Linked DNA regions of Homo sapiens. The protein of the gene in region 2 purifies or fractionates together with the protein of the main gene of each other region. This does not show direct contact. Each region holds a gene or a part of one and is shown on either strand. Other genes may lie near its edges.

Region 1 (7,406 bases), on a different chromosome or scaffold from region 2:
AATCCACGTCCTAGACTCTAGCCGTCCCACTGACCCTCTGAGCCACAGCAGCAACAGCAGCTCAGAGTAAGTTGACAGTGTGCAGCGTCCTGGGGGCACACACCTCCCAGAGAGTCTCCTGGCAGGGGGCCAGAAAGGGCCGGGCGTCAGTGAGGAGAGGGTGGGGACAGAGAAGAAATGTTGATCCGCCCGTAATGAAAATAAAAGAGGAGGGAAATGTTCGATTATACCTAACAAAGTTATCCCTGCACACTTGAAGATGCATTTTCCAGCCTCTAATATGTGTTTCTATAATTCTTCAAGCTTTAACTTTGCTTTGTTGTTTTGGTTCTTGGGTGTTTGCTTTTGTGCTTAGGCTTCTATGGGAAGCCTTATTGATGATTTGAAAGGCTTTATGTCCCTCATTGAATAGAACAAATAGATAGATAAATACTTTCTAGACTTACCATACAACTCTTTTGAGCATTGTACTCATGTTTCAATTTCTTTTTAACCTGCAGTTTAGCATTTTGTTAAAAAAAAAAAATCAAGTAAAAATTAACTTGTAACCTTAAAATTATGTAATCCTTTTTGTGTAGTTGAAACTCAGTTTCATGAAAGTAAAGGAATGTTAACTGAATATGACATTATAGGCTGTCCCTATCCTTTTAGTGACCTATTTCTGCATCATGAGTACCACATGAGCTCGTTAATGCACCAAGTGTATATCATAGATAATTTGATTTCTTGGGTCAGGGGTTTTCCTTTTTTTTAATATTAGAACATATTCTTCAGATGGTATTTGTTCATACGTTGGCTGAAATACTGCCATGGAACATAATCTGGTGTGATGAGAGGCTATTGCCCACCTCCTCCTGCTGTGGACTCTGCAGCTGCTCGTGCCTGCCCTGAGGCCAAGTTCTGGAGCCACTTTTCTGTGAGGATTAAAGTACAAGGCATAGTTTAGGCTCAGGGTTTAGGTTTCACCAGGCTCTCCCTATGTGTCTGGCCCCATTTGCTCCTGTCTGAGATGGAGGGAGAATTCTGCTGTGTCTAATGAAAGCATTGAAACATTTGGCCCGTGGACCACTGGGTAGGACAGAGTGGCCTTGTTTTGGAATACCGTTGTGATGGGGATAGCCATTACATCTGTGGCCACAAGCAGTGTGTGGAACCTGTGGTATCAGCCACATGGACTCATACTCAGAAGTGCTTTATGTGGTGGGCATTTGTCAGAGCCTAAGGGGGCTGCCAGCTCCTCATATGTAGTACAGGTTGAGTATCCCAAATCTGAAATCCAAAATGCTCCCAAATCTAAAGCTTTTTGAGCACCTTCATGATGCTGTGAAAGGAAATGCTTATTGGAGCACTTCAGATTTCTGGATTTTGGGTGCTCATCTGGTAAGTATATAATGCAAATATTCTAAAATCAAAAAAATAGGAAATTCAGACCACTTCTGGTCCCAGGCACTTCAGATGTGGGATACTCATGTGTAGGTTTCCCGTAACAGAATTCTCATTACAGACGCATAGAACCACATGGTAAAGACAAATTGAAAGAAAAGGGGGGAAATCCTAACATGTTTCATGTTTCTGTGTGTTCTTTGCTCTGTGTACTGGTTATCGTAATGTATCTGCAACTTAATATTCTGCATGTGTACTTGTCTGGGGTGATTTTTATTGATTTCATGTCATCAGTTCATGAAATAGAACATGAAATCAATAATTAATATTGATGACATGAAGTCAATAATAATCAGTTGTTACTCAGATACCCTCAGGTTTTTTCACCTCTCCCCAGTCACTGCCGTGCAGGAATTTAAAGGAAATGAGAAAGGCGGCAGCCAAGGAGCTCATCCTTGTGAGAAGAATTTCTATATTTTATTATTAAAAATCCTCAGGTGATTTGCAGGCACATTAAAGTTTGAGAAGATCAAGTGAAATAATTAAGATTTAGTTATTGAAACTGATATAACAATGAGCTAGAGATTGTTTATCTGCTAAAATTGCTTTTCAGAGAAAACTTCCCATATCCAGTAAATGATTTACTATTTCCACTACCGCTTGCTTAGACTTGATCCCAATTATATTTGCTATCTTGTGTCCCCCGCTTTCCTGGGAAGACTGTGAGGACAGGAGCTTGTCCCTGTTCATATCCCCAGCACAGTGCCTGGCACACATTATGTGCTTTGTGAATGGTTTGGAAATGAATAAATCCTAGCTTTCGATATGAGAAAAGTAGTTTAATATGTTTTGCATTATCCAGCATAAGGGATAATTACCCAGGTATCAAGAGCCTTTTTCTTTAATACTATTGCCCTTTTCATCAGCAGCAAGCAGAGTAAAATGAAAGAATGTTAAGCTTAAAACCATTAATTGGTCAACTTGTTAGCAATTCTAACAAGAAGTTAAGTTAGGAGATATCATAGGCCACAGAAAGAACTCTTACAAGTGATTTCCGAATACAAGTACCTGCCACCCCAACTGTCAGGGATAATTAAGAGTGGATTGGGATGTCTTTTAGTTGTTTTAGGTAAAATTTTGCTTTCCAATCCCTGTTGACAGCTCTATATACATCCTTGTGCATATAAATCAGATTTGGTGACACTAATCTAGTTGAAAGAAAAGACTTCCAACCCCATATACTTACTTTCTCTCTCCAGGAAGCTATTGGTGTGCATTTGTATTCTTGTGTCATGTTTTGGTGCCCTAGATAGCAACTAGAACATTTACAGAGAAGTCCCAGGCTGTTGAACTGCACGTGAGAGGAGGTGAGCAGGGCACTGGATTTGGAAACTAATCAAGCTGCCGCTTAGCCGTTCTTGATTGCACTTGAGGAATTGTGAGTTGTCACACAGTATACTCATGTAAGTGATAAATTCCCATTAAAGTGAAATAAGTGTTCTTTTTTTAAAAAAAAATTCCCTCCTGTAGTTATTATTCAGTCAAAATTGAAGCTCCTGCATATGCTAGGCATTGGCTGAGGGTTGAAAAGCTTGTTCCTGTGCCTTCAGAGGGAGCGCAGTATGATGAAGGCTAGGGGAGCAGGTCCACTTCCAGTGCCACGCTTATACGCCAAGTGCAGTGGGCGTAGAGAAGCAGCATTCAGAATATGTGAAATCCAGTATTTCACCTCCTAGATGAGGGGATGCGGAGTTGAGTTTTGAAGGATAAGCAGAATTTAACTGAGTGAAATAGAAAGCTCATTGTCTACGCCATAGTTGCTTTGGTTTGTATGGCTAAGCAGTAGTGTTCAGGTATTTTGCTCTCCCAAAAATATTTGGATCACATGATACAAACAGTGAAGATTCTGTCTGCTCTGGGTTAATTTTGGAGGCCAGGAAAAAAATGTCCATGATTCATGATACGAAGAATGAGCTTGTGCTGCTGAAAATGAAAAAGTAAGCTAGCATTTCGTCATCCTGCACTACTTGCTGCTTTGAAGGAATATAGATTCCTAGGTCATAGAATATATACATAGTCAAAAACACTCCTAAAGAATCAATTATTTGTGAACCAGATAGAGTATACAAGTCTTTGGAGATCAAGAGAGTGAAATGAGAAGCCATAACTGCCCTCTGCCTAGCTAGGCTGAGTTCCGAGAGGTGGTTGGAAGACAGAAAGTGGCGTCTGTCCCTGGGTAAGGGCTGTGGCGTAACTGGGTGTGGGGCTTTTCTCTAATCATCTGGAGAGGAGAGCCCCTGACAAGCTGGCCCCCAAACAAGGTGGCTATGGATTCTTCTTTTTATAAAAGTTTAAAGTGTCTTAAATAACCTTTTGTGCCATTGAATAGAAAGAAAGGTAGTGGAACTCCAGAATACAAGGGATTGGCCAGAATAAATGGTTGGTATAGAGTAGATGTCAATCTTTTTATTTAAAAATTTTTTAAGTACATTAATACAGTACATTAACATAGCTGTTTTAATACAAGGGTGCATTAAAATAATGCCATAAAAGCACCAGCAGCCAGAACCACAGATCTCATGGTCCTTGGATGCACTTCCTGTGGCTGCTGTAACAATTGCCACAAACTGGGTGGCTCAGAACACAGAGCTTTATCCTCACAGTTCTGAAAGCCAGAAGACCAGAATCAAGGTATCAACAAGGCGATGCTCTCATCCAGCATCTGATGGCCCTTGGCATTCCTTGGCTTATGACTATGTCACTCCAGTCTCTACATCCATCTTCACATGGTGGCCTTCTTCTCTGTGTCCTTACGTCTTCTCTTTTTCTGTGTTTTGTAAGGACATTTGTCATTGGATTTAAGGTACACTCTAAATCCAGGATGATTTCATCTTGAGACCCTTAGTTACATCTACAAAGACCCTATTTCCAAATAAAGTCACAGTCACAGGTTCCAGGGATTAGGACTTACATCTTTTGGGGTCACTATTCAACCCACTACAGACCCCTACCAAGTATAATGTAATTTGGAAAGACATGTGCCTCCATGGGATTAAACAGAAAGACGTCGTCATCTGAAATGTACCTTCTCTCTTTGTGGAGAAAGTCAGTTTTGTTTTGCTTTGCTTTCACTCTGATGTTATGGAAGCGGCAGCATCTGGGGCTCTGCCTTGGATATGTGCAGTTCTGGAGAGTATGCTGTTGCACAGTCTGATGAGGGTGATTCTCCTCGCTGTTGATACCAAAGCAGTATTTGTCGAGTCTCATGACATGGCAGGCACTGCTCTAAGCATTCCACATGTCTTAATCTCATTCAGTCCTCAATACAGCTCTGCAAAGTAGATCTCATTACCTCCTATTTACTAGATGAGGAAACTGAGGCACAAAAAGGTTAAGTAACATGCCCAAGACCAACCAGCTTCAATGTGATGGAGCCAGTGTTTAAGGCATGTCTCTGTCTTCTCAGTGACTTCAAGTGCTACAAGGGGTGGAGGTGCCAAGTTTACAGAGGATGGACCCACTGCTCGGTTTTTCTGTTCTGACTTTTCTCTCTTGGCACTTCTTTGTGTAAGAGCAGCAGGAGAGCCTTTTAACCAGATCTGCACATCACACTTCCCTGGGATACATTTTAGAAACATGCCTTGCCCAGGGTCTGCCCCTGGAGATTTGAGCTCAGTCTATGGTAGGTAAGGTACATGTGGCTGTATTTGTGTCTAACTTGATGCATATCCCTGGTTGAAACTTCTACACAGCAGTTATCACCCTGACCATGAAATGTTCCTTTTCCTTAGTGGAAGAGATTTGTGGGGTTTGGTTTGTAATTTAGAGAGGGAGAGTTTAACCAAGCCATGCATATTCTTTCATTCTGCCTTGAAATAACAGGTACATTTTTACTTACTGCACTCCTTCTCCAACTTACATATCCAGCTGTCTAAGTAGTATCCTCCAAATTCCAGTATTACCCAATGTGTAGAAAGCTTCAGGATTTAGGCACCTGGAAGAGGAAAGAAGAGAGCTTCCTATATTCTTCTGTTAAAATTAAAGCCCTTCTCATCAGTTGGAGAAGCCAAGCTCTCTTAAGTCTGTTTCTATCTCTAGGTTTTGTTAACTAGAAATAGAATCTTTTCCAATGCATTTATTTTAACCAATTTTCCCTTATTATAAATAGTGTTTTATTATAACAACATAATTTACTTCCTATTGTTTATTTCCATGTAGGATGTTATGACATTTTGGGCAGTCTATCCCCAGAATAGATTTTACCTCTTTTTATTGTATTCTACCTTTGGAAGGTTATTTTTAAGTGCAAAACACTTTATAAATATATGCTTAATTTTAATATATGCTTAAATTTAAAAATAATTGTAAATTCTCTAGACTGGGAACACTCTTTCAAAATAGTTTGTGCCGCAGTTTGCTGAGGGATTTTGCCAATATCAATACAACTATCCCTTCATCATTCTTGGCATGAGTTCTCTCATGGGCTTCCCATTCTAAGATCTCAGGGTATTTTAGTATATCTTACTTCGTTCTTCAGAACTTAGTAAATGGGAGTTCAAGATATATTGGGTGTTTAAGTGGAACCTTTCCCTGCTCAGTCGTCTTCACAGTGAATCTCCATTTTGTAATTTTCTTGTGTGATCATTGTGAGTGCTGTCAGCAGGTCCTGTATTACTTGGACAGAGTTGCCGACAGATTGATCTGGGCCTCGAAATACTTTCTTCTTTTGGACGGGGTGAAATTTAAAATGTGGATTATACCCAAGGGGAGGAAGAAGAAGGGAGTGGCGCGAGCTCAGGTAGCTTTCGTTGTGGCAGCACCTCCATTCCCCATGACTCCAAACCAGAAGTGTGGAACCACTTGTACTTTGGTCAGGAGTTTAAAAGCCAAAGGAAGACCTTATTTTCCAACCACATAAAATACATAATCATTGCTAAAGACTTATTCACAGCATACTGTTGATAAATCAATGGAGTAGACGGCTAGCTGGCTTCTGTCCTAATTAATAAGGCCTGCCTCCCTGTCTGTATATGAGGACTAATGGAAATGAGGCAGTTTATACTAGTAAATACCATGGTATATAAGGCTGCCCATCTCGTCACTGTCCAAAGAGCATGCCATGCCCCTAAATACATACAAAAGACAAATTCATGGAGAAGGGATACATACCAAAATACTAACGTCAAGGTAGTCTAGCAGAAGGTGAATTTTCTCCCTTTGTCTATTTTTAAAATTTAATGTAAATTTTTTTAAAGTAAATGTTGACAGGTCTGAGTAGCTTGTTTTTCAAACAATTATTTAATGGTTAAGGATGTAAAACTATGTAAAATATGGTCCCAGTTTTTGTTTTAGGTTAGCTGTAAGGTTGATGGTTGCATGGGTGAGTGGATCGTAAAGTCAGCACTTGGCACAGTAGCTTTCATTCTGCTGGAAATATCAAGTACATTTTTATCTCTCAGTGCTGGAAATATGGATTCTTTTTGTTTTCTCTATACTTTCCATATAATTTATAAGAAGTAAAGGTTTCACTCTGAGATTATGATAAAACTGAAGTTAGTCCATTCATTTTGCAAATATTGGATGCCTATCATCTACCAGGTCTGGGAATACAAAGAATAAAATATTCCTCTCCTTGAGGTGCTCCGCATAGTAGGGATGATGAATGTAATGTAATCAACACACAATCCAACCCATGGTGCAGGATATAGGCTAGTTCAGTCCGTTAGGATCCAATGGGGCTCCTGCTTTGACTCCTTTTTCTTCCCTCAATTGTCCTGAAGGCTTTTTGTTGCTAGGCAGCTTTCCAAGGAGAGAGAATCCATTGTTTTTACTAGTTCTGAGGCAGAAATGAGATGCCCAAGCAGTTTCTGTTCTCCCTACCTGTCTTCCCACACAGGTTGAGTGCAGTAAGGGGCTGAGAGTGCACCCTTCCCTCTCAGGCATGTCACGTACTGCTACACCCCTGTGATGCTGGTCCTTCCCCATACATTTTCTTTAGTATATGTTCTGTCCATCATTATCTT
Region 2 (7,406 bases):
GACTCAGTACTACCTCAAGTTTTTACTTGCATTAAGGGCAAGTTCAGAATGAGAAGGGCATGGTGAGGGCACCAGGGATGGCTAGGGCAGGGCCCTTGAGACACTCCGGAGTCTCATTCTCACATACAATATGTTCCCATCTTCCTAAGGTCCTTCCTATCATACCCCTGACCACCTGTCACGTTCAACATCTTTATGAAAAAGAATGCAGTCAGCCAACCAGGACTTTTCTGCAACCCCAAATGGCAGAGTGAAAAGTTCATCCTTCTGGGCTGGCCATCTATCACGTTCTTCCTTTGATTATGTATTTACCACACTGTTGTCAAACTTGTATGATCGCCTCTTCTATTAGATTGTAACTCACTCATGGCAGAGCCTTCCCCAACTACGGTCTGGCTTCTGACCTGACTACTCCACAGGGACACTCCAGTTTGTGGTACTTAGTGACCACCACACCAGCCCTGCCTTCTCTGTTGGATATGACCCTCCTTCCTCCCACTGGCTTGCTTCACTTTCTCAACTGCTTTCACTGGTTCATGCTCTGCTACCTGCTTCTCCCACTGGGAATCTCCAGAGCCCAGTTTCTAATGGGAACTAGATTTAACTATGCTGTTAAATGCTAATAGCCAAATCTTTACCCTCACAGTTACTCTCCAGAATGCTCCAGTGACCTCAGCATTTACTTTCCTCTTTCTCATCCCTCCTTCTCTCCCTTGCAGAGCAACACTGCTTCATCTCAGTTCCTGATTGCAGTTACTAACATCATATTAGCATCCTTCCCATCTCTCAAGGGAGTAACCTGAGTCATCTTCAATATTCACTCCCCCTTTCCTCCTCCTCTCCCCTTCTCTCCTCAACCCACGAGGGTCAATAAACCCTATCAGTTCTACCTGTTGGAGGATCTCAAAGTTAAATGTACCCCAAAGCCCTGCCTATGTGTTCCCATTTCAGACCTCACTCTCTCCTGGACTAACTGGTTTTCCAGCCTCAAATTCTTACTCTGAATCCTCTCTTCAAACAACCACCTGAGTGATTATCAAAAACTATAATGCAGAATCAAAATATTCAACAAGTTCTCATCCAGTGAAGACAGGTCAGAGTCCTGAGAGTGGCAGTGCAGGGCCTTCATCCTCTGCCGTTGTCCGCCTCTCAAGCATCACACTCCCACACACCGTCACACTCCCATAACCAGTCTTTCATGATCCTTCTTCTGCGACCTGTTCATTCTGTTTCTCAAGCTCTGCACACAACAGTCTCTGCATACAATTCCTTCTTATTGTTTAAGACCCACTTCAAATGCCACCGTCTACCCAATCCTCTTCAGAGCTCCTCTAGCTAACATTACATGTCACTTTTTCTCTAAGCTTTACCATTAAGAGAACTGCAGAAATCTCTACTGTCTGGCAATTCATGGTTAACTCTTGGGAGCTCTCCCCATTTGTTCTCAACATTTTCAGAGGTTCTGCATGTCCCGGACACTAGGTTAAGTAATAAGGATGACCACATTAATAAGATATGGACCCTCAAGGAGTTTATTCTGATGGAGAGGCAGACAAGTAAAGAGATAATCAAAACGAATCAACTACAAGCAGTTTGGTGTCACTGGCTTATGGAGTACAAGGCAGGGAGTGGAGATGGACAGGGGCCACCTCTCAATCTCTTAACTCATTAGCACTCTTCATAATGCAGAATGCTTGAGGAAATAGTTGCTGATACAACAAATGGAAAACATGCAGAGAAAATGACCATGAAAACTGTCAAGAGGATTCTAGAATGACACCCTCTCTCACCTCCAAATTAGGAATCTTGTGCCGAAAGCAGGTAATGAAGACCACAAAAGGCCAGTCGTCAGGCTGCATCATCACACCGGCAGCCTGGGCGCAGCTCACATGGAAGGCAGTTGGGCAGCGGCCGTGAGAACACTGCACACAGCAGCCAGCAGTTCTTTTCCTCCGCTTCTTACAGAAGATACATTTCTGTAGCACAGGGGAAGAAAACCAGTGATTGCAGGAACTGGCACTGCAGCTTCCTCTGTTGTTCCCCTCCCAAATGCAAAGCCAAGCAAGCAAGAGCCAGCCCCTTCCCAAAATACAAGGACACACCAGCCTGCTCTAATCCAGGTCTGGTTACAACTTTATCTGCCAAGGAAATTTTTTTTTTTTTTTTTTTGAGACGGAGTCTTGCTCTGTCACCCAGGCTGGAGTGCAGTGACACAATATCGGCTCACTGCAACCTCCGCCTCCCGGGTTCAAGTGATTCTCCTGCCTCAGATTCCCGAGGAGCTGGGATTATAGGTGCGCACCACCACTCCCAGCTAATTTTATATTTTTAGTAGAGTCGGGGTTTCACCATGTTGCCCAGGCTGGTCTTGAACTCCTGACCTCAAGTGGTTCACCCACCTCGGCCCCACAAAGGGCTGGGATTACAGGTGTGAGCCACCACACCTGGCCTCCACTAAGGAATCTAACCACAGAGTGAGAATCACAAACTCTAACCAAAACCAAGGGGTACAGGAGGTCCCTGTTCTCTTCTACCCAGAAACTTGTAAGTCGGGAAATTATGTAGAGTCTACAAGCCCTTACCAGTTTGAAGCGGGGCAGGGGGATTTTGCTCACATCCACCGGACTTCTTTCTGCAATGTTGACAAACCTTGCTTCCAGAATTGCCACAGCACATGAAACGTGGACCCACCTGCCAAAAGGCAAAGGCTCCCTCAGTCACCTCTGGGCCCAAGGCTCTGTGGCCTTCTCTTTTGGGCCTGCTGACAGCGCTTCCTCCCTCACCTGGGTGACCACTGACTTCCACCAGCACATGCCTGGGACCCAGGAAGGTGAGAACCAGAACCGTCTCTCCTCTGAGTATGTGGAAGCAGTGCCACCCCCACTGCCCACCTAGGCCACTGCCCACTGCCCTAGGTTAGCACCGGATCATGCTTCTTACACCACTCTGTTGAAAAATGAACAGAGCTGCAGGCTAATGGTGTGTGGCAGGTCTCAGGGAGTGAGAATAAACTGGAAAGCTCTATGCAGACCTCTTTACCATAGGACCCAAGTGCTTCCTGAAAACGTCCCCGGCTGTGCCCTAATCTGCCAGTAATCACAGCTCTCTCTCGGCCTCTGCCCAAACCTCTCCCCCAGGCTGAAATGACCTCTCCCTTCTGCTCCCTTTTTCCATAGCTGACTCACTCTTTAATCTTTAAGGTCTGACCCAAGCCCCACTTACTCTGAGAGGTCTATTCAACGGACATCCTTAAGAATTAAAGTAAGTTTTGGACATTTTGGGAAACCAGCATGCATCAAGAGGAGAAGAACGAAAATGGTGACAACTCTTAAAACCATGCTACGTGAAAACCTACACCAGACAACACTGGGGCTCCATGGAAGCTCTCTGCAGTTCTAGTGGGGCTGTCTTTTTAGAGTGGGAACAGATTTGTTCTGTGTGGCCCTGGAGGGCAGAACAGGCATTCAGAGGTAAAGGTGAGAGATTCAAGCACAGCCATTTCCACTCCAAATAAGAAAGAATGTTCCCAGCACTATCCTGTGACTGTGAGGAACCCAGTGACCTCAAATAATGGCAGCAAGTGCCTTTGAAGGAGCAGAAGCAGCAGGCAGAGTAGCTATCTCTCAGGGACAGCATAACTGGGACTCTTGAGGGCAGGCGGCTGGACTGAACATATGCTGCAAGTTGCCACGGGATTCTACTTGGAAGCAGGATACTCAGCACTGACCTGCACGCACCATGCCCTAGACAGCTAGCTCTTCCAGGTCAGAAACCTCATTCATCTTACGTTTCCACCTCAGAGCAACCAAACACAAGCCTAAGCACAAAGATTCACTCCATGAAAACGAGCTGCCCAACAGCTGAGAAGCCCAGAAAATTCAGCAGATTCGGTTCCATAGTGGGTGGGCCTGTCTGAGCTCTCCTCAGTGTCCTCCTTGAGCACACTCGCCTCATTCCAAACAGCAGGTCTGAGCCAGGGAGTTTGCCATGTGGAGAAGTGCTTGCTAGCCTGTGGCCGCCTCTGCATACCAGCCCCAGCTGTGACAAGGTGAATGTCCTCACTCCAGCCCACACAGTCCCTGCGCATCATCTTCGTCTTCATATTCTCATGAGTCCATTCTTAGCTTCTCCAAAGGAGGATGTCACTGACATCTCTGCTGCAGAGGAGCAGCTGGAGTTGGAAAGTCTGGGACTGCTTGGCTCCCTTAGCATTCCATTTTTAAAATGAGTCTTGGAGATGCTATTCCTGCTCCACACGATGTGCTTCCCAAATCCTCATCAGTCATTCAGAAGAACAGCTAGTACCCTCACAAAGACACTGTGTGCTTCGGAACTGAGCCTGTGCATTCCAAGGCACTGCTCAGGAAACTTACCTGTCATCATTTGCTCTCTGCAGGGCCCCTCCTCGTAATGAGCATAAACAGCAGTCCTGCCAAGAAAGGAGAGGGAGGAAAAAGTGGTTAATACCAAGTCATTAACATTCAATCTGCTCTCCCCTGGACCTGCTTTGGGCAACTCCTCCACATAAGAAAGAAGCATAATAGCATGTGGGGCTTCACCCAGGCAGCCCCTGCACCAGGACGCCCTGTCAGAAGGAGAGGCCACTCAGGGCTAAAGTGTGCCAAGTAGTCACGTGACTTCACATAATCCTCTTCATTGTTGCTGCTAATAACAACTCTTAGCAAAGTCACAAAAGATACTTTGCTCAAACTAGAGGCATGACAGGGCTCTGACTGCTTCTTATATGGGCTAGGTACAGCCAGGTTCCAGGGGGTACAGTGAAGAGAAAACAGCACAATGAATCATCTGAGCCCCTTTCTGAGGCTCCAATTCAAAATGGCTAAATTCTTTTAAGGGAGTTATTGTTCCTCCACAGGAAGACCACTAGTTGGTCTTTCCACAATGGAGCAAACACAGCATCCAGACTCCGTAAGTGGGCAGCAACCATTCTCACGGTCATAGGATTTACTCTCACAATACTCGCTCTCTGACATCACCGCGTACCAGACCCTATGCAGACTGCTGGGAATACTGAGTCCAACATGAAATCGTCTGGCCCTGAATATGCACCAAGACTCATGGTGAAGACAGTAACAGTGTGGGATCACTCACCTCCTCTAGGGCATTGGCTGAACACCGAGAACACATCCAGTCTTCAGAAGCCTTTGCAGGGGGGACCCCATAGCAACCTAACAGGGACACCAAGATGAGCAAATTAAACCCAGTGGTCAGAGTCAAAAGGTAGATTTGCAATTCCTTTCCATATACCACCTCCCAAAGCTACAACCAAATCTCACAGAAACCCCTTAGTTTTCTTTAGTCTGAGTCCCCAGGGCTCAGGCATACAGTATGGCTCAAAGTCTCAAAAAGTCAAAAACTGTAGATTCACTGGTACAAACACCTAGTAAGTGGCAGGGACTAATCCCTTTCTGCTATCTGCAACCAAGAGGATGGCAAAGAGATGACTAGTGCCAGTATGGACCCCTGGAGACAGTGAAAAATCAGCTAGCAACAGACTCCCCAATAAAACATCAACAATCTTTTTGGGGCTGGGAGGCCAGGAGGTGGCAAGAACTTCCAGTGAGCAGGCCCATACTCCTGGGACAGGACACAGAGAAAGGTGAGCAGCACTCACTGGCATGGACCCGGACGCTGCACTTCTTGCAGGAAACGAGTATGCTGGTGCCATCCTCCTCAAGATAAGGAGTAGAAAGGTTGATGTCCGTGCTGCAGCCAGTCGAAGTGAAGCACATTTCTGGAATCAATGGCTTGGTCCTCTGCTTCTGGGGGGCTAAATCTGAAGCATTTCCACAGTTCTGATTAAAGCCTCCAAATTCAACCTAAGGGGAAAGAACAAGTGTACACCTCAGTGAGCACGTGCCTATGCTCTTAGCTTTCCACCTGCTCTATCAGCAGAAAGCTGGCTCTCTTACCGATCTGACTATGGCTACAGCTCCCGGGTGCACAGCCATTATCCCGGAGCTGCTAATTGAAGTTACCTGTAATGACTCAAATTCAGTTTCTCACAGCAGCATCATACAAAGGCCCCTAGGGGACAACTGAGAAAAGGGAGCAAGGTAAGAGGCAACTGGGATTTCAATCTTCCCAAAGAAAGTGGTTAATAAAATGCACTGAGAGGCCAGGTGAGGTGGCTCACGCCTGTAATTCCAGCACTTCGGGAGGCCGAGGCGGGTGGATCACCAGAGGTCAGGAGTCCAAGACCAGCCTAGCCAACATGGTGAAACCCCGTCTGTACTAAGAATCCAAAAATTAGCTGGGTGTGATGGTGTGTGCCTGTAGTCCCAGCTGCACTCCAGCCTGGGCAACAGACTGAGACTCCGTCTAAAAAAAAAAAAAATGCACGGAGATGTTAGCAGCTAGGCTGCTACTGTGGGCTCCCTTACGTGCTACACTGTGCGGTGACCCCACCTCAGGAGTGTACCCAGAGCAGATGCTCCTAGTAGGCCAGCACTAATTGCCTCTTGTGCCTGTCAGCAGGTCACCTGAACTGCAGCACTGTCACATGGCTGGAGCCCCACCTGTGTGATTCCTGGCTCAGGGTCCCTCCAGGAAGAACTTAAATCCACATACTTCCCTTGGCAAACTATACTGATTGCAAATATCTGCTGGATGGCACCTGCATCTCCATTCCAAGGATGAGGCCCAGAAAGATGTCAACCCCAGAGCCTATGCCATTTGTGAAACTCCTACTTAGTAGATCTGCTTATAGTAAGAACCCAGCCATTCACTCCCCTCATAGGCAAAGGCTTTGGTTTTGCTTTTTGTCAATGGAAAGGTTTAGTGAGTTCCTAATCCAAAGTGTGTTGGTCTGAGGTTCCATTTTCAGCAAGCATGAATCTGGGGCCCTGCCAGGCTCAGCGGCAGCCATGCCACTTTAACCACCACAGCAGGTAAGGACCACTTACCTACCTGCTATGCTGTGCAGGTCCCAGCTGAGACTGAGCTGGTCCCTTGGCACCTGCTGCTGTGAATGCCTTCCTGGCATCCTAGAGCTGGACCCAAAGAGATCCACCAATGAAGCCACAGATGCCCCAGAGCAGGAGGCACACAGCTGAGCTCAGCAATCTTGCTTCCCAGCCCCTCCTCACATATCAGGCCCTTGCTTCCACCCCTCCCAAGTTCCTTCTGCTACTGGCAACACGCATTGTGGCAATGGGAAAGGAAAAACAACATTAGAGGATCTGGCTTTTCAGCTGAGGTTCAGACTGTGGTAAGGAAATCACAGTTCTCCACCCTGGCCAGGACTATAAACCACTTGGCAGGAATAACCACGGACTAGAATAACAGAAATGCAGATTGCTCTGCAAACTGATGTCTGTGATGACTGCATGTGCAAAGGGGAGCCTAAGCCCACCCTCAGCTCATCTCCAAAGCATTCTCAATTG
Region 3 (7,406 bases), on a different chromosome or scaffold from region 2:
ACCAGGTTCCAAATGTCACTTATTTTAATGGTTTGGTACATATACTGTGTATATGTATACTATCTTTTGTTCTTGTTGTATCTCTTGAACTAAAATAGAAGTGGTAATAGAGTAGCTATTCCCCGGAACTCTAATCAGTGCACCTGTGGCTTCTCCTTCCTCAAACCCTACAATCACATAACATGCGAGATTGGTTCCATAGACAGCTGTCCTTCCCTCCTCCCGCCCATCAGGGTAGCTTGAGGTGTGCTACGGCCGGGCCCTGGGTGGGTTCGTGGGTGTTGCTTACTCTGTTGGAGGTTGGGTATTACTGGTCACCAGTTGATGTTTTGACCCTCTCTCTGATACTGTAAGTTGAAAGTTGATTCCGCCACCCACTGAGATCCTTTGTCACTTCCATGGTTACTTGTCCTGATCACTCAGCCTCACTCAGCTGTTCCCTCACTCAGCCAGGATGTCTTCTCCTGTGTGCAAGACACTGTCAGCTCTTCCTTTTAAAGATCTTGGTGAGGCCGGATGCAGCGGCTCACACCTATAATCCCAGCACTTTGGGCGGCTAATGCAGGAAGATCACTTGAACCCAGGAGTTCGAGACCAGCCTGGGCAATATAGCGAGACTCTGTCTCTACAAAAAATTTCAAAACTAGCCAGGTGCAAAGTAGTATGCACCTCTATCACCAGCTACTTGGGAAGCTGAGATGAGAAGATCACTTGAGCCTTAGTACTCAAGGCTGCGGTGAGTCATGACAGCGACACTGTACTCCAGCCTGGGTGCCAGGGCAAGACTCTGTCCCTAAGCATACACCGTCACATGTCAGTCTGCTGCCTGTGGGTGGTTAAGTCTCTCATTATACTGTGAAGACAGTTAGTTTTGCATCCACATATGACAGTATTACAGGACATATAATTCTCATGTCCTAAGAACTTAAGCAACAGTGGGATTTATTTATTTATTTGAGGCAGAGTCTTGCTCTGTGGCCCAGCCTGGAGTGCAGTGGTGCAGTCATAGCTCACGGCAGCCTCAAACTCCTGGACTCAAGTGATCCTCCCACCTTGGCCTCCCAGAGTGTTGGAATTACAGACATGAGCCACTGTGCCTGACCAGCATAGTTTTTGATGCGTTTAGTATCTTAATGTAGCTGCTGAAAACCTTAAGAGCTGACCCCGGTCTCCCAGAAAGACCATGGTGTGCTTAGAGACTCAGCACTTGCAGGGATAAACAGGTCCATCTTCTGGCGAACAGAGAGGGAACTGGGGGGGCTTGCAATTACTATGTGACTTTTTGAGTGAGAGACACAGTATGGCTCCTTGTTGTTCTTTTTTTTTTTTTCTTTTTTTGGAGACGGAGTCTCACTCTGTCACCCGGGCCGGAGTGCAGTGGCGTGATCTCGGCTCACTGCAACGCACTCTGCCTCTTGGGTTCAACCAATTCTGCCTCAGCCTCCCGAGTAGCTGGGACTACAGGTGCATGCCGCCCCTGGCTAATTTTTTGTATTTTAGTAGAGATGGGTTTCACCATGTTCGAGGCCGGTCTCGAACTCCTGAGCTCAGGCAATCCGCCTGCCTTGGCCTCCCAAAGTGCGGGGATTACAGGCGTGAGCCACTGTGCCCGGCCTTTTCTTTTTTGAGACTGGGTCTCACTCTGTTTTATGTAGCCTCCCTCACCCCTTCCCGGGGACCTGTGGCCCCAAACTTTGGACCTTTCACTAGCGAAGGCACCTTCTTACTTAGACTGAGGCCTTTACTCTTTTATGCACTGTGCGTGGCCTAGGTCTCTGAGCACATTAAAAATGAGCTCTACAATTAACATGCCAAGTTCAGGTCTATATTCTAACTCACAACAAAAGTGTGCACTCCTTGTCTAGTAGTTGGCAAATCTGTAACACGTTTGTGTGAGAAAGTACCTCTAGATGGTGTCAGCCTGGGCCCTAAAGAAATTGCAGCACAGCTTCCCTAGGTTGAGAGCATTTAGGTTAGGTGCCCCAAATGGGGACAACTTGCTCAGGGAGATAGACTGCTGATGTGAGGGATGAGATGGAGTGCCTGTGACAAAGGATTGTGCGTGGCCGTGACTCCCACATGGGCTGTTCTGCAGGGTCTTTGCGCACACAGCAGCATGGAATCTGGCCAGTTGGTCTAGAGTAGGGTTTTTCTTGGCAGTCATTATTTACCTTCTTATAGCCAACAGCATGGTGGTTGAGTCTCAGCTTTGGAGTCAGACTGCATGGGCTCGCACTCAGTCCTCCCTCCCGCTTGTTGGCTCTGTGGCCTTGGGTAAACCCTGTAACCTCTCTGTGCCTCCTTTTTTTGTTTTTTCATCTGTGAAATTTGCCTGTAAGGAAGTGTATGGCCTGGCCTGGGAGGTGCCTGGCACTTGACTGTGTTTTTGTCACTGTTGCTCAGATAGAGACAGCTGTCATAGTCCGTCTCTATTTCTTGTTTCCCTGCTGTGGGTCCTTGATTGAAAGAGCAGTTGGGAGACCCTCAGGCTCTGAGTGGCCTGTTCACCTCAGTCGTCTGCAAGGTGAGGCATCCTGTGCCATCTTAGGAGTGGCCCCCACTCTTCTTGAGGTGGCACTTGGCCGCTTCTTGAACGTGGGCCCCTGGGTGGCCAGGCGGGGGTAGGTGGGCCCTGGGATGTGACTGTGGAAGTGCAGGCCCATGACGCCAGTTCTTTCTGCTGTTTGTGCCCAGGTGGCAGCACCATGGATAGCTCCGCAGGAAGCAAGGCTAGGCGTGAGGCTGGGGAGGACGAGGAGGGATTCCTTTCCAAACTTAAGAAAATGTTTACCTCATGATATCCCAGCCGAGGTAGGAAAACCCTGGAGGTTTTTTTTCCCTTTGTTTTCCTCTGTGAACTAATCCTGGTTTTCTCCCACTTTAACCAATATTGTGCCCCCACCCCCAGGAGTTGGAACAGGTGCCAGTCCAAGGTGTGGTAAACCTAGCTCCACTAGGAGCTGGCCTCTCAGCCTAGGGAATAGATGACGTGGCAATCAGCCTGTAGTGCAGGACTGGCTGGGCTGCCGCGGCCAGCCTCTGGCTGTGTCTTCTTCCTGGGGAGGTGGCGATGCTGGGGCTGTTGTACAGCCCCCCTGCAGTGGTGGGTCCGGCTTGCCCATGGTCACAGAGGGCGAGTCAGGCAGAGCCAGGCCTAGAACTCAGATCTCCTCACGTCCTGCCTGCTTGGAAGCTGCCCTCCTGCGTGGACAGCGCAGGGCTGTGCAAGCCTGGGGGCTGCTCCAGGGGTAGCGCTTGCTCGCCGTGTCATCTTGGGACCCACTTTGGTTTATTATGCTCATCTCAGCAAGTGGGGTTCTCGCCCCTCTCTTGGCACAGCTGCTTTCCAGGGATTAACAGACGCTCCCCACAGGGGTGTGTTCCCTTGAAATGTTGAGTATAAGGTAACAGCCTATCTCTTTGGCTCAGGAAAAAGATCCACTGGAAACTAGGCCGGGAAGCAGCAGCCCCTCCAAGGGCCAGGGCACCTGGGAGACGGGAGGATTCCAGAACAGCAGCACTGAGCTCCCACCCGCAGAGCCTCTGGACGGCCTTGGCAACAGCAAAATCATGGGACAACACCTCTCTCCACGGAAAGGTCACAGTGGACAGCCCGGGCAGTAGGATGCAGCCCCAGAGGCTGGTGGCAGTTTCCTGTCCATTGGTAGGTGACGGCCCCTGGCTCAGGCAGAGGGAGATGGTTAGACTCTTGCAGGGCTAAAACTCTAATTTGGAATTGAATATTGTGGATATCTTAGTTAAAGGCCATGCTTACAGCTTAGAAATGAAGCCTTAAGCTGCATCAAGTTACGAAGTGATTAATTTCCTTCTCAGCAAACCTCCGGGAGGTTCCAGAATGAGTTCTTCCTGACAGGTTGTCTTCACTGGGAGCGTGGGGCCCCCAGGCCCCACCAGCACCGTCCTCCCCTAATGAGGGGCCCTGCCGAGGCATCAGCTGCTCTGCTCAGTTAGTTTTTATTCCCGGGGTACCAAGCAGCTGCACAGTCGGTGCCTGGGAGGCACGTAGAGGCCCAGAGAGTCCCTGGGGGTTCTGCTCTGACCGTGTGGGTGGTGATCCTTGTCAGGATGTACAGTCCTTGCTCCCACCCCATCCGGGATGGCCGCCTGTCCCTGACTATTGAGTCCTGTTGTTGTAAGCCAGGCATGGAGGGCTCCTGCCCTTCTGCTGAGCCACAGCCCATTGCAGCACTGTGCTGGCCAGACTTCAGCTGCCTTGGGAACTGAAGCCCTGCCACTGTTGCTAGTCAGGGGCTTGGTTCTCCCACTTACACTGTTGACATCTATTTTCTGAAGTGTGTTTAAATTATTCAGTGCTAATCATTGTTTTTTCCTTTGTAAATGTTGATTCAGAAAAGGAAAGCACAGGCTAAGCAGTTGAAGGTTCCCCACCATTCAGTGAGAGCAGAACCCCCATTCCCCAGCCTCTGCTGGTAGCATGTCGCAGTTTCCATGTGTTTCAGGATCTTCGGGCTGTCGTTAGACAGGTTAATGAAGAACACTTCTCAACAGTTTCCTTTTTGTTTTCCTTTATAATTCACTAAAATAAAGCATCTATTAGTGTCTGATTTAGGAATGTAAAATGATTCTGTATTAATGTAAATAAGATTATCTATTGCAAAAAGATATTTCAAACCTAAATTGTGGTCATTTCTTCTTTGAAAGAATTCAGACAGCCTCTGCAGGTGGCTTATGGGGGTTACAGGAGACTTGGCTGGCCTCATCCTGTGCTCACAGCCACCCAGAGCACATAGAGGCAGATGGGTCTGGGGTGCCGACAGTGCTGACCCTCACTTGGATTCCAGAGCAGGGTGCTTGCCATGACACAACAGTCCCCTGTGAGTGAATGTTCTAGAATCTGGATGTGACTTTTTTCTTGGGAGCCCATGCTGTGAGAGCTGGCCAATGTCCCTGGGTCCCTGCATTTCAGTCTCCCTCACTGGATTGTTTCCCTTCATTCTTTCCAGTCTTTGCATCTTTTACATTCAATTTTATTTTATTTTTTTTTTAAATGGAGTCTCGCTGTGTCGCCCATACTGGAGTGAAGTGATACCATCTCTGCTCACTGCAACCTCTGCCTCCTGGGTTCAAGCGATTCTCCTGTCTCAGGCTTCTGAGTAGCTGGGACTACAGGTGCATGCCACCACGCTTGGCTAATTTTTGTATTTTTAGTAGAGATGGGGGGTTTCACCATGTTGGCCAGGCTGGTCTTGAACTTCTGACCTCAGGTGATCCGCCCACCTCGGCCTCCCAAAGTGCTGGGATTACAGGTGTGAGCCACCATGCCTGACCAAAATTTTTATGTATTATAGTTTGGCTACTCTGGGTTCCCAGCCACGCTCTATGCCTGGCGTGGCTAGAGGGGCCCTGATACACAGCTCAGTCCACTCTGGCACTCTGGGCTGAGCAGGGTGAGATGAGAGTCTGTTTGCTGGGTCAGGTGGAGAAGAGACTCGGGAAAGAGCTGACGGACAGGAGAGGCTCAGCAGTGACATTCTGCTCATCTCAGATACTTCCCAGTATTTTCATCAATGAAATACTGATTGCCTGCCTACTGTGGACACTCAGTATGGACCAGGCCCTATTCTAGTTCCTGGGGATACAGCAGTGGGGAGCTAGACCGTGTCTCTTGTGAAAGCTTGGGCTTATTCCTGGAACAGTCACCCTGAGTCTCATTCATGTCCTATTGCTTCAAAGCAGAAGTCTAGAGAAAGACTTTGGAAGAGAAAGGTGGATTTTCTTGCTAAACAGAAACCATTGTTGTGTTGAAGCATCCTTCCCTCAAGGGATTAGAGGTGGCTGTGCATGACCAGGCGAGGTGGCTCACACCTATAATCCCAGCACTTTGGGAGGCTGAGGCGGGTGGATCACCTGAGGTTAGGAGTTCAAGACCAGCCTGGCCAACATGGTGAAACCCCGTCTCTATAAAAATACAAAAAAATTAGCCAGGCGTGGTGGCACATGCATGTTATCCAAGCTTCTCAGGAGGCTGAGACAGGAGAATCACTTGAACTCAGGAGGTGGAGGTTGCAGTGATTGGAGATCATGCCATTGCACTCCGGCCTGGGCGACAGTGCGAGACTTCATCTCAAAAAAAAAAAGGTGGCCGTGCAACAGCTGTAGAATTCAGTGCTCTTTCTGGGCCTGGGTTTGGTTTATTTCCACTTGTGCTCCTGATGTATTTGTTACCAGACTTCTTTATAGCTTCTGAGTAGTAGTATGTATTTAAAAATATAAGAAAAGGGCCAGGCATGGTGGCTCACGCCTGTAATCTGAACACTTTAGGAGGCCAAGGAGGGAGGAATGTGTGAGCCCAGGAGCGAGAGAGTGAGACCCCCATCTCTACAAAAAAATTCTAAAAAATTAGCTGGGAGTGGTGGCTTGGCACCTGTAGTCCCAGCTACTTAGAAATCTTGAGGTGGCAGGATTGCTTGAGCTGAGGAGTTCAAGGCTCCAGTGAGCTGTGATCATGCAACTCCACTCCAGTCTAGGTGACAGAGCCAGACCATGTCTCAAGAAAATAAAGTATTTCTAGGCCTGTGAGCCTGTGGGAGGTACATGTTTGGCACTTGCTTAAACATTAGGAGGGTGGGCCGGGCGTGGTGGCTCACACCTGTAATCCCAGCACTTTGGGAGGCCAAGGTGGGCGGATCATGAGGTCACGAGTTCAAGACCAGCCTAGCCAACATGGTGAAACCCTGTCTCTACTAAAAATACAAAAATTAGCCAGACTTGGTGGTGGGCGCCTGTAATCCGAGCTACTCGGCAGGCTGAGGCAGGAGATCCGCTTGAACCCTGGAGGTGGAGGTTGCAGTGAGCCAGGATTGCGCCACTGGATTCCAGCCTGGGTGACAGGGTGAGACTCCATCTCAAAAAAAACATTAGGAGGGTGGACAAGGCCAGCTCTCAGGCATTGGTCCTCAGCCCCATTCCCACCTCAGGCCTGGGACTGGGTTGTTTCCAACCTGAGCCCCCTCCTCACTCATAGTCCTTTGGGTTCTGGTGGCCTGGCCTTTGTTTCCTTCCCTGTCAACCAAACAGTGTGCAAGAATTCTCTCCAGGCCCACAGGCCTCCAGCTGCCCCTGCCCCTCTGTGTTTGTAGCACTGCAGAGCCGGCTCTGATGTGGAGGACGGCAGCTGCACGGCTCCTGGAAGAGGCTTGTTTCACACTCTTGCTTGTTAATAAATACTGTGCAGGTCTTATCTTTTAACTAGAAGTTCTGCTTATTTCTCATGACTCTTCAAGGGTCACAAATGGGCCAGGGGGGAACATAAAAGGCGAAGTGGGTCCATAGTTATATGGCCAAGGGCATGATCCACAGACCTTAGCTTACTGGTCACCTCCCCCGATGCTGCTCCTGTCCCCATTTATTTATCCTTCCTGTTT
Region 4 (7,406 bases), about 69 Mb from region 2:
TATTTATTGAATGAAGGTATTGCTGTCCTTGAGTAACTATTACAATTGAGAGAGCGACTAAGAAGGACATTTGTCTAAAGTCATAATCAATATTGTGAGTCAAAAACTGTGAACTAATATATGCTGGTTGGTGATAAGAGGCACTAACAGAAGTGGCCAAAATCAAAACATTAAAAGCAAACTGAATTTCTACTGGCAGAATCAGCACTCAGGATCAAAACTAATTTTTTAAAGAAAAACGAGACATGAGTAAGACAGACACTAAATATTCCATACTCACCGAAACAGTTAGTGAATCCTGTACATCTTTATGACTAACCAACTGAACATTGCCATCTTCATAATAGTGAACCTGTGTGAGACAATGTTTGAGCCTTTTTAGGGGAAGTTCATAGAGAAACCTGTTATTTAGGACACAAATCCATGCTTTAAGCTATCTTTAAGTTGATGAGCCATTTTACCAACTCTGAACAAATAATTAATATAAGCAGTGGTAATTCACAATGGTGGTTAATTAATCCACAGAACACTTAAGTTTAAGAACGCTTTTTCCTTAGCAAGGAAAACTGATTATTAAGTTCAAGAAACATTTATTACATGCTTTTCACATTCTAAGCACTGTGCTAGGCATTGTGAATACAAAGGTAAATGAGATCCCACTCTTAACAATATTAAAATAATTAAAGTTATTAAACATTAGTTTTTCTCTGTGAAAACCAAGGAATTTTAATGGATCCTCATACCTAATATTTGGCACATTTCTCCATATACATTATCATCAATGTTGGTAAGCAGAACTGACCAGGTACAGGAAAAGTCACATTGAGGGTTAAAGACAGGACAGAAAAACAAATATTTTATTGGTAAATCAGATATTTTTAAAAAGTAAGATAAAAGTAGTTCTGAATATGTAAGGTAAAGTGAAGTGCTACAATTATGCAAACAATTAGCAAAAAGGAGAAGAGACTAACAAGTCAATGACATTTTAGGTTAAGTTTTGGCAACTTAAGATAGGTTTAGTCACCTTGACAAGGCTACTAATTGGTCATACACAATAGGATGAGGGTATCCTTTTGTGCATTTGAATAGGATCTTGAAAACAGTAGTTGTCACCTAAGTAGACAGGTAGAGAATGACATCTACACCAAGGAGATAAAAAAGTATAACAGAATGGAGTATAACTGGTTTAATTTGGAGAAGAACAAAGAACTCACTGCATATGAATATGTGTAAAAAAGGAGTGTGGCAGGAGACATTGCTATGAAGTGGAAACACAGACTGTGAAGAACAAAGCACCTTATAAACCATGTTAAGAATTCAGACTACTCAGGAGGCTAAGACGGGAGGATCACTTGAGGCCAGAAGTTTAAGACCAGCCTGGGCAATATAGCAAGATCCCCATCTTAGGGAAAAAAAAGAATGCAGATGTTATCCTATTATAGGTGACACACGGGAAAAGGAATGTTTTAGAAAGATTATACTTGTGCTATGAAGAAAATAAAACGAAGGAGCTGCTATTGGAGACATAATGCCAGAACAATAGTCCAGGTAATGCCATTTATCTAGTGCTATGATTTTAATGTTGGTACCTTCCCAAAATTCTTATGTTGGACCAATATGCAATGGGATAATATTAAGAGGAGGGGCCTTTGGGAGGTGATTAGGTCATGAGGATGAAGCCTTCAAGGGATTAGTGCCGTTCTAAAAGAGGCTCAATCAAGCTCTCTTGCCACTCTTCTACCTCATGAGGACAGTGTTCACCCCTTCTGTCACGTGAGAATGCAGAAGGTGTCACCTATGAGAAACAGAACTCACCAGTCACTGAATCTAACAGCACCTTGATCTTGGACTTCTTAGTCTCCAGAAGTATGAGGAATAAATTTCTGCTAAGGTATTTCTGCTAAGGTATACCAGTCTAAGGTATTGTGTTATAATAGCTGAAACAAGGCCGGGCGCGGTGGTTTATGCCTGTAATCCTAGCACTTTGGGAGGCCAAGGCGGGCGGATCACTTGAGGTCAGGAGTTCGAAACCAGCCTGGCCAACACGGCGAAACCCCATCTCTACTAAAAATACAAAAAAAATTAGCCAGGTGTAGTGGCAGGCATCTGTAATCCCAGCTACTTGGGAGGCTGAGGCAGGAGAATTGCTTGAACCCAGGAGGCGGAGGTTGCAGTGAGCCAAGATCATGCCACTGCATTCCAGCCTGGGTGACAGAGTAAGACTCTGTCTCAAAAAAAAAAAAAAAACACAAAAAAACCCCAAACAAAGACATCTAGTCTATGCTACCAGGAGATATGTGAACAAAACAGAATGTTTTGAGGGATAAAGCAGAAAAGGAAAAGAGAAGAACAGTAATCTTCACTTACTTCATCTCACTTACTCAGTAATCTTAGCTGTAGGAGCTATTATTTATTAAGCCTTTACTATGTGTTAGACACTGTGCAAACACTTCACTATTACTTATATTCCCTCATTTAATCCTTTTTTTTGAGACAGAGTCTTGTTCTTGTCGCCCAGGCTGGAGTGCAATGGCACGATCTCGGCTCACTGCAACCTCCGATTCCCCGCTTTAAGTGATTCTCCTGCCTCAGACTCCCAAGTAGCTGGGATTACAGGCACCCGCAACCACGCCCGGCTAACTTTTGTATTTTTAGTAGAGACGAGGTTTCACCATGTTGGCCAGGCTGGTCTCGAACTCCTGACCTTGTGATCCACCCACCTCGGTCTCCCAAAAGTACTGGGATTACAGTCATGAGCCACTGCGCTAGGCCACCACATTTAATCTTTACAAAAACTCTTATGAGATGAGGACTACGACTAACCCTATTTTACAGCTGAGGAAACTGAAGTTTGCCTTGAGGCAGTTATTAAACAATAACTTATCCATGTTCACACACCTAGTAAGAGGAGGAGCTAGGATTTGAATTAGGTCAAATTCCAGAGCTATCCAACATATGTAATACCTCCCAATGCTATGTTTTGTCAAAAAGTTAGAAATTCCTTGATCTGGGGAGAAATAGTGTCTCAGCAGGGGCTTACTCTTTGTGGATATCATTAGAAGGGCATAACTAACAGTCAAGCTTCATCTAGGCAGAAAGCTATTTGCAACAAAAAGACTTTCCTGGATAACAAGAACCCCCTACCTATCCTTGTTTAAAGGACAAAAATAAGTATCTTTTTTTTTTTTTTTTTTTGAGACAGTGTCACGCTCTGTCGCCCAAGCTGGAGCACAGTGGCTGATGTCGGCTCACTGCAACCTCTGCCTCCTGGGTTCAAGCAATTCTCCTGCCTCAGCCTCCCACGTAGCTGGGACTACAGGTGCGTGCCACCATGGCCAGCTAATTTTTGTATTTTTAACAGAGATGGGGTTTCACTGTGTTGCCCAGGCTGGTCTCGATCTCTTGACCTCATGATCCCCCTGCTTTGGCTTCCCAAAGTGCTGGGATTACAGGCGTGAGCCACCGTGCCCGGCAAGTATCTTCTTGAATGAGGACAAACAGCTGGCTCTATCCAGATGGGCATGAGAAGCTAGACTTTCCATACCCTCTCTAAACCCTGAAATTTTACCTTTTGGCTTTCTAAGAGGTTAAAGAAGAAAAGACAATATAAGAATCTACTGAGAACAGGCATGGTGGCTCACACATTTAATCCCAGCACTTTGGGAGGCCGAGGTGGGCAGATCACTTGAGGTCAGGAGTTCGAGACCAGCCTGACCAACATGGTGAAACCCTGTCTCTACTAAAAATACAAAAAAAATTAGGCAGGCATGGTGGCAGGTGCCTGTAATCCCAGCTACTTGGGAGGCTGAGACAGGAGAATCACTTGAAGCCAGGAGGCAGAGGCTGCAGTGAACTGAGATTGCACCACTGCACTCCAGCCTGGGTGACAGAGAGAGACTGGAATCCACTGGAGACAAGATGAGAATCCAATGGAAAAGAAGGGTGATAATAAGAACCACTAATACTTACATGTAAAATCAGAACAGCAAAGATGTGGGCAAAAAAGACTGGGCTAAATGATGATGACATATAAAGGTTAAAATCCCAATAGATAAGAATATTTAAAATACAAGTAGGTCACAATCAAATATCAGTTTTGTTTGTTTTTTCATTAAAAAAACTAGAGGTTCAGGGACTGAAAAGAACATTCAAAAGGGGAATGAGCCGGGTGCAGTGGCTCACGCCTGTAATCCCAGCACTTTGGGAGGCCAAGGTAGGCGCATCACGAGGTCAGGAGATCAAGATCATCCTGGCTAACACAGTGAAACCCGGTGTCTGCTAAAAATACAAAAAATTAGCTGGGCGTGGTGGCATGCGCCTGTACGCCCAGCTACTTGGGAGACTGAGGCAGGAGAATCGCTTGAACCCAGGAGGCGGACGTTGCAATGAGCCAAGGTCGTGTCACTGCACTCCAGCCTGGCGACAGAGCAAGACTCCATCTCAAAAAACAAAACAAAACAAAAAGGGGGCAGGGGGGAATTATTACAAACAGGATGGGAGATATTTAAAAAAACAACAACAGATCTGGCCATAGAAGAAACAAGAACTTCTGTATTTCTCAGAACTTGTCTAAAGAGAGGAGGTATGCAGAGCACATTCTTTTTGTTCGAGAATAAAGACTATACAATTAGTTTGAACTTCTGTTATGTTTTTTAATTAGGACATGGAAAGGAATATAGGGTAAGGTCAATAAGCCTCACTGTTTTTGATCTCAATGAAAAATTCTAGGGCCAGGCGCAGTGGCTCACGCCTGTAATCCCAGCATTTTGGGAAGCTGAGGGAGGCGGATCACAAGGTCAGGAGTTCGAGACCAGCCTGGCTAACACAGTGAAACCCTGTCTCTACTAAAAATACAAAAAATTAGCCAGGTATGGTGGCGGGCGCCTGTGGTACCAGCTACTCAGGAGGCTGAGGCAGGAGAATGGCATGAACCCGGGAGGTGGAGCTTGCAGTGAGCCGAGATCCTGCCACTGCACTCCATCCTGGGCAACAGAGCGAGACTCTGTCTCAAAAAAAAAAAAAAAAAAAAAGAAAAATTCTAAAAAATATTAATTTCATTACCTAATACACTAATGTTATTATAATTTTTAGAAATTAACCCAGCCTGGGCAATATAGTGAGACCCCGACTCTACAAAAAAATAAAAAAAGTTGGCCAGGTACAGTGGTATGTGCTTGTAGCACTAGGTGCTTGGGAGGATGAGGTGGGAGGATCATTTAGTTGAGGAGTTTGAGGTTGCAGTGAGCTATGAAAGCACCACTGCACTCCAGCCTAGGTGACAGAGTTGAGATACACCGTTTCAAGAAAGAAATTAAGCTCAAAACTTATGTGTTCTAAGACCTTTTCTAGGTCTCATCTGCTAATATGAAAATGGTTCAATTAACTAACACAAATTTCAACATGATTGTCATCAACATAAATCCTCAGAAATTGTTGCCTTCTCAGAACGATGTTTTTGCCTATAGACTAGCCTGAAAGGCTAAATATCTTAACGACTTTTCCAAATAATTCTCACTCCAAAATTTAAAAGATATGTAAATGAAATAAGCTTTCCCCAAAAGTGTGCTCAATCTGTGCTTAAAAAGGTTTAAATGTGGGTCTGTACACTGGGCTGTATTTTGAATCTTACCATAAATTATCACCCTTTGTGATGTGTGCTCTTATTTTATAGGTTTGCACTGGCAGAGCTAAAATACAAATGGCTGTTTCCATCTAGAAACAAAGTAAAATTTATTTACACAAAATTTACAATAAGCTTCTACAATGCTGATACCATGGTTCTAGGAAGTTAATGCTAATGCCACAGTTACAAGAGATCTAGAGCGCTAGGCTACTAAGATATTTTGTTAACAGAAACAGAACAGTATGCTGTCTTAGGTTGCACCTTCCCAGAAGGAGACCCCAAGACAAAGATTAGAGAAAAAGTAGTTTATTCAGGAGCGAATCTCACAAAGCTACAGTAGGGGACAGAAGAAGTGGGACACAGAAGGGAAGGAAGCCTTAGAGGTACGTTTATGAGCAGGTTACAGCTGTGGGTATTGGGCTCCGGAAGACTAAACAGAATGTGCTTGAAAGTTGTCCTACTTGAGGAAGCTGCCATATTTATCTACCAACTCTTACATATCACTGAGGGCTCCTCCTAGAGCTGTGAACTCAACACCAGCCTGTCTCACCTGAGTTGGGCATGCTCCTATGGCCAGGAGCTACTTGTTGCAGGAAGCTATAGGTATATATAAAAAGAGCAGATTTACTTTTACAGAATTTATTACCTATGCACTTGATTAAATTAGAGCATTAAAAAAGACAACTCTTGGCTGGGCACAGTGGCTCACCTGAGGTCAGGAGTTCAAGACCAGCCTGGCCAACATAGTGAAATCCCACCTCTACTAAAAATACAAAAATTAGCTGGGCGTGGTGGTGTGTGCCTGTAATCCCAGCTACTTGGGAGGCTGAGGCAAGAGAATTGCTTGAACTCAGGAGGCAGAGGTTGCAGTGAGCCAAGATTGCACCACTGCACTCCAGGCTGGGCGACAGAGCGAGACTCCTCCTTCTCCTCCTTCTCAAAAAAAAAAAAAAAAAAAAAAAAAGACAACTCTTGGTAATTGTTGTTAAAGCACAGCTTCACATAATATAATACAGGTACGATTAGGTACTGATCTTCTCGGTTACCTGTACCTATTCTGACCTTACAGTTAGTGAGGCTTAAATATTAAATCACCCTGAGTTTAGAAAGTCAAACCTCTGCTAGGATATTAAACTTCAATCCAGACAGGCATCAAATGAGTTAACAGCTATCTTATTCAGCTGCCTGTCTACCCTGACATCAGCATTAAAAATCTACTTCTGGGCCAGGTGCAGTGGCTCACGCCTGTAATCCCAGCATTTTGGGAGGCCGAGGCGGGTGGATCACCTGAGGTCAGGAGATCGAGACCAGCCTAACCAACATGGAGAAACCCCGCCTGTACTAAAAATAGAAAATTAGCTAGGCGTGATGGCGCATGCCTGTAATCCCAGCTACTCGGGAGGCCGAGGCAGGAGAATCACCTGAACCCAGGAGCCAGAGATTGCGAAGAGCCGAGATCATGCCATTGCACCTCCAGCCTGGGCAATAAGAGCAAAACTCCATCTCAAAAATCAATCAATCAGTCAATCAATCAATCAATCAATCAATCTACTTCTGCTTGGCTATTTATATTCCAAAACACCTGCCATTCTCTCTAGTTATAATTTTTAGGAATTAACCCAGCCTGGGCTGGGAGGTGGAGGTTGCAGTTAGCTGAGATCACGTCACTGCACTCCAGTCTGGGTGATGGAGTGAAACTCTGTCCCAAAAAATAATAATTATTATTATTATTAATTTTAAATCTTTCCTAAAACTGCTGTTTGATAATTCCTAGTTATATCTT

Evidence for each region.
Region 1: the proteins of KDM4A (region 2) and WRNIP1 purify together in Homo sapiens (pull-down; one study listed by IntAct). This does not show direct contact.
Region 3: the proteins of KDM4A (region 2) and DNAJA3 purify together in Homo sapiens (pull-down; one study listed by IntAct). This does not show direct contact.
Region 4: the proteins of KDM4A (region 2) and CAPZA1 fractionate together in Homo sapiens (co-fractionation; one large-scale study listed by BioGRID). This does not show direct contact.

The regions. Positions count from the first base shown.
Region 1 is NC_000006.12:2,770,296-2,777,701, forward strand, and holds part of WRNIP1 (ATPase WRNIP1), read left to right. Parts: coding exon 1-66; exon of another isoform or gene 67-81; intron 82-2,642; coding exon of another isoform or gene 2,643-2,703; exon of another isoform or gene 2,704-2,756; intron 2,757-7,406. UniProt on the Homo sapiens protein: Functions as a modulator of initiation or reinitiation events during DNA polymerase delta-mediated DNA synthesis. In the presence of ATP, stimulation of DNA polymerase delta-mediated DNA synthesis is decreased.
Region 2 is NC_000001.11:43,689,279-43,696,684, reverse strand, and holds part of KDM4A (lysine-specific demethylase 4A), read right to left. Parts: intron 5,841-7,406; coding exon 5,636-5,840; intron 5,190-5,635; coding exon 5,113-5,189; intron 4,430-5,112; coding exon 4,374-4,429; intron 2,692-4,373; coding exon 2,583-2,691; intron 1,977-2,582; coding exon 1,791-1,976; intron 1-1,790. UniProt on the Homo sapiens protein: Histone demethylase that specifically demethylates 'Lys-9' and 'Lys-36' residues of histone H3, thereby playing a central role in histone code. Does not demethylate histone H3 'Lys-4', H3 'Lys-27' nor H4 'Lys-20'.
Region 3 is NC_000016.10:4,452,117-4,459,522, forward strand, and holds the end of DNAJA3 (dnaJ homolog subfamily A member 3, mitochondrial), read left to right. Parts: intron 1-2,694; coding exon 2,695-2,798; 3' UTR 2,799-2,811; exon of another isoform or gene 2,812-2,812; intron 2,813-3,429; coding exon of another isoform or gene 3,430-3,452; 3' UTR 3,453-4,659; downstream 4,660-7,406. UniProt on the Homo sapiens protein: Modulates apoptotic signal transduction or effector structures within the mitochondrial matrix. Affect cytochrome C release from the mitochondria and caspase 3 activation, but not caspase 8 activation.
Region 4 is NC_000001.11:112,660,020-112,667,425, reverse strand, and holds part of CAPZA1 (F-actin-capping protein subunit alpha-1), read right to left. Parts: intron 6,221-7,406; coding exon of another isoform or gene 6,191-6,220; exon of another isoform or gene 6,174-6,190; intron 353-6,173; coding exon 281-352; intron 1-280. UniProt on the Homo sapiens protein: F-actin-capping proteins bind in a Ca(2+)-independent manner to the fast growing ends of actin filaments (barbed end) thereby blocking the exchange of subunits at these ends.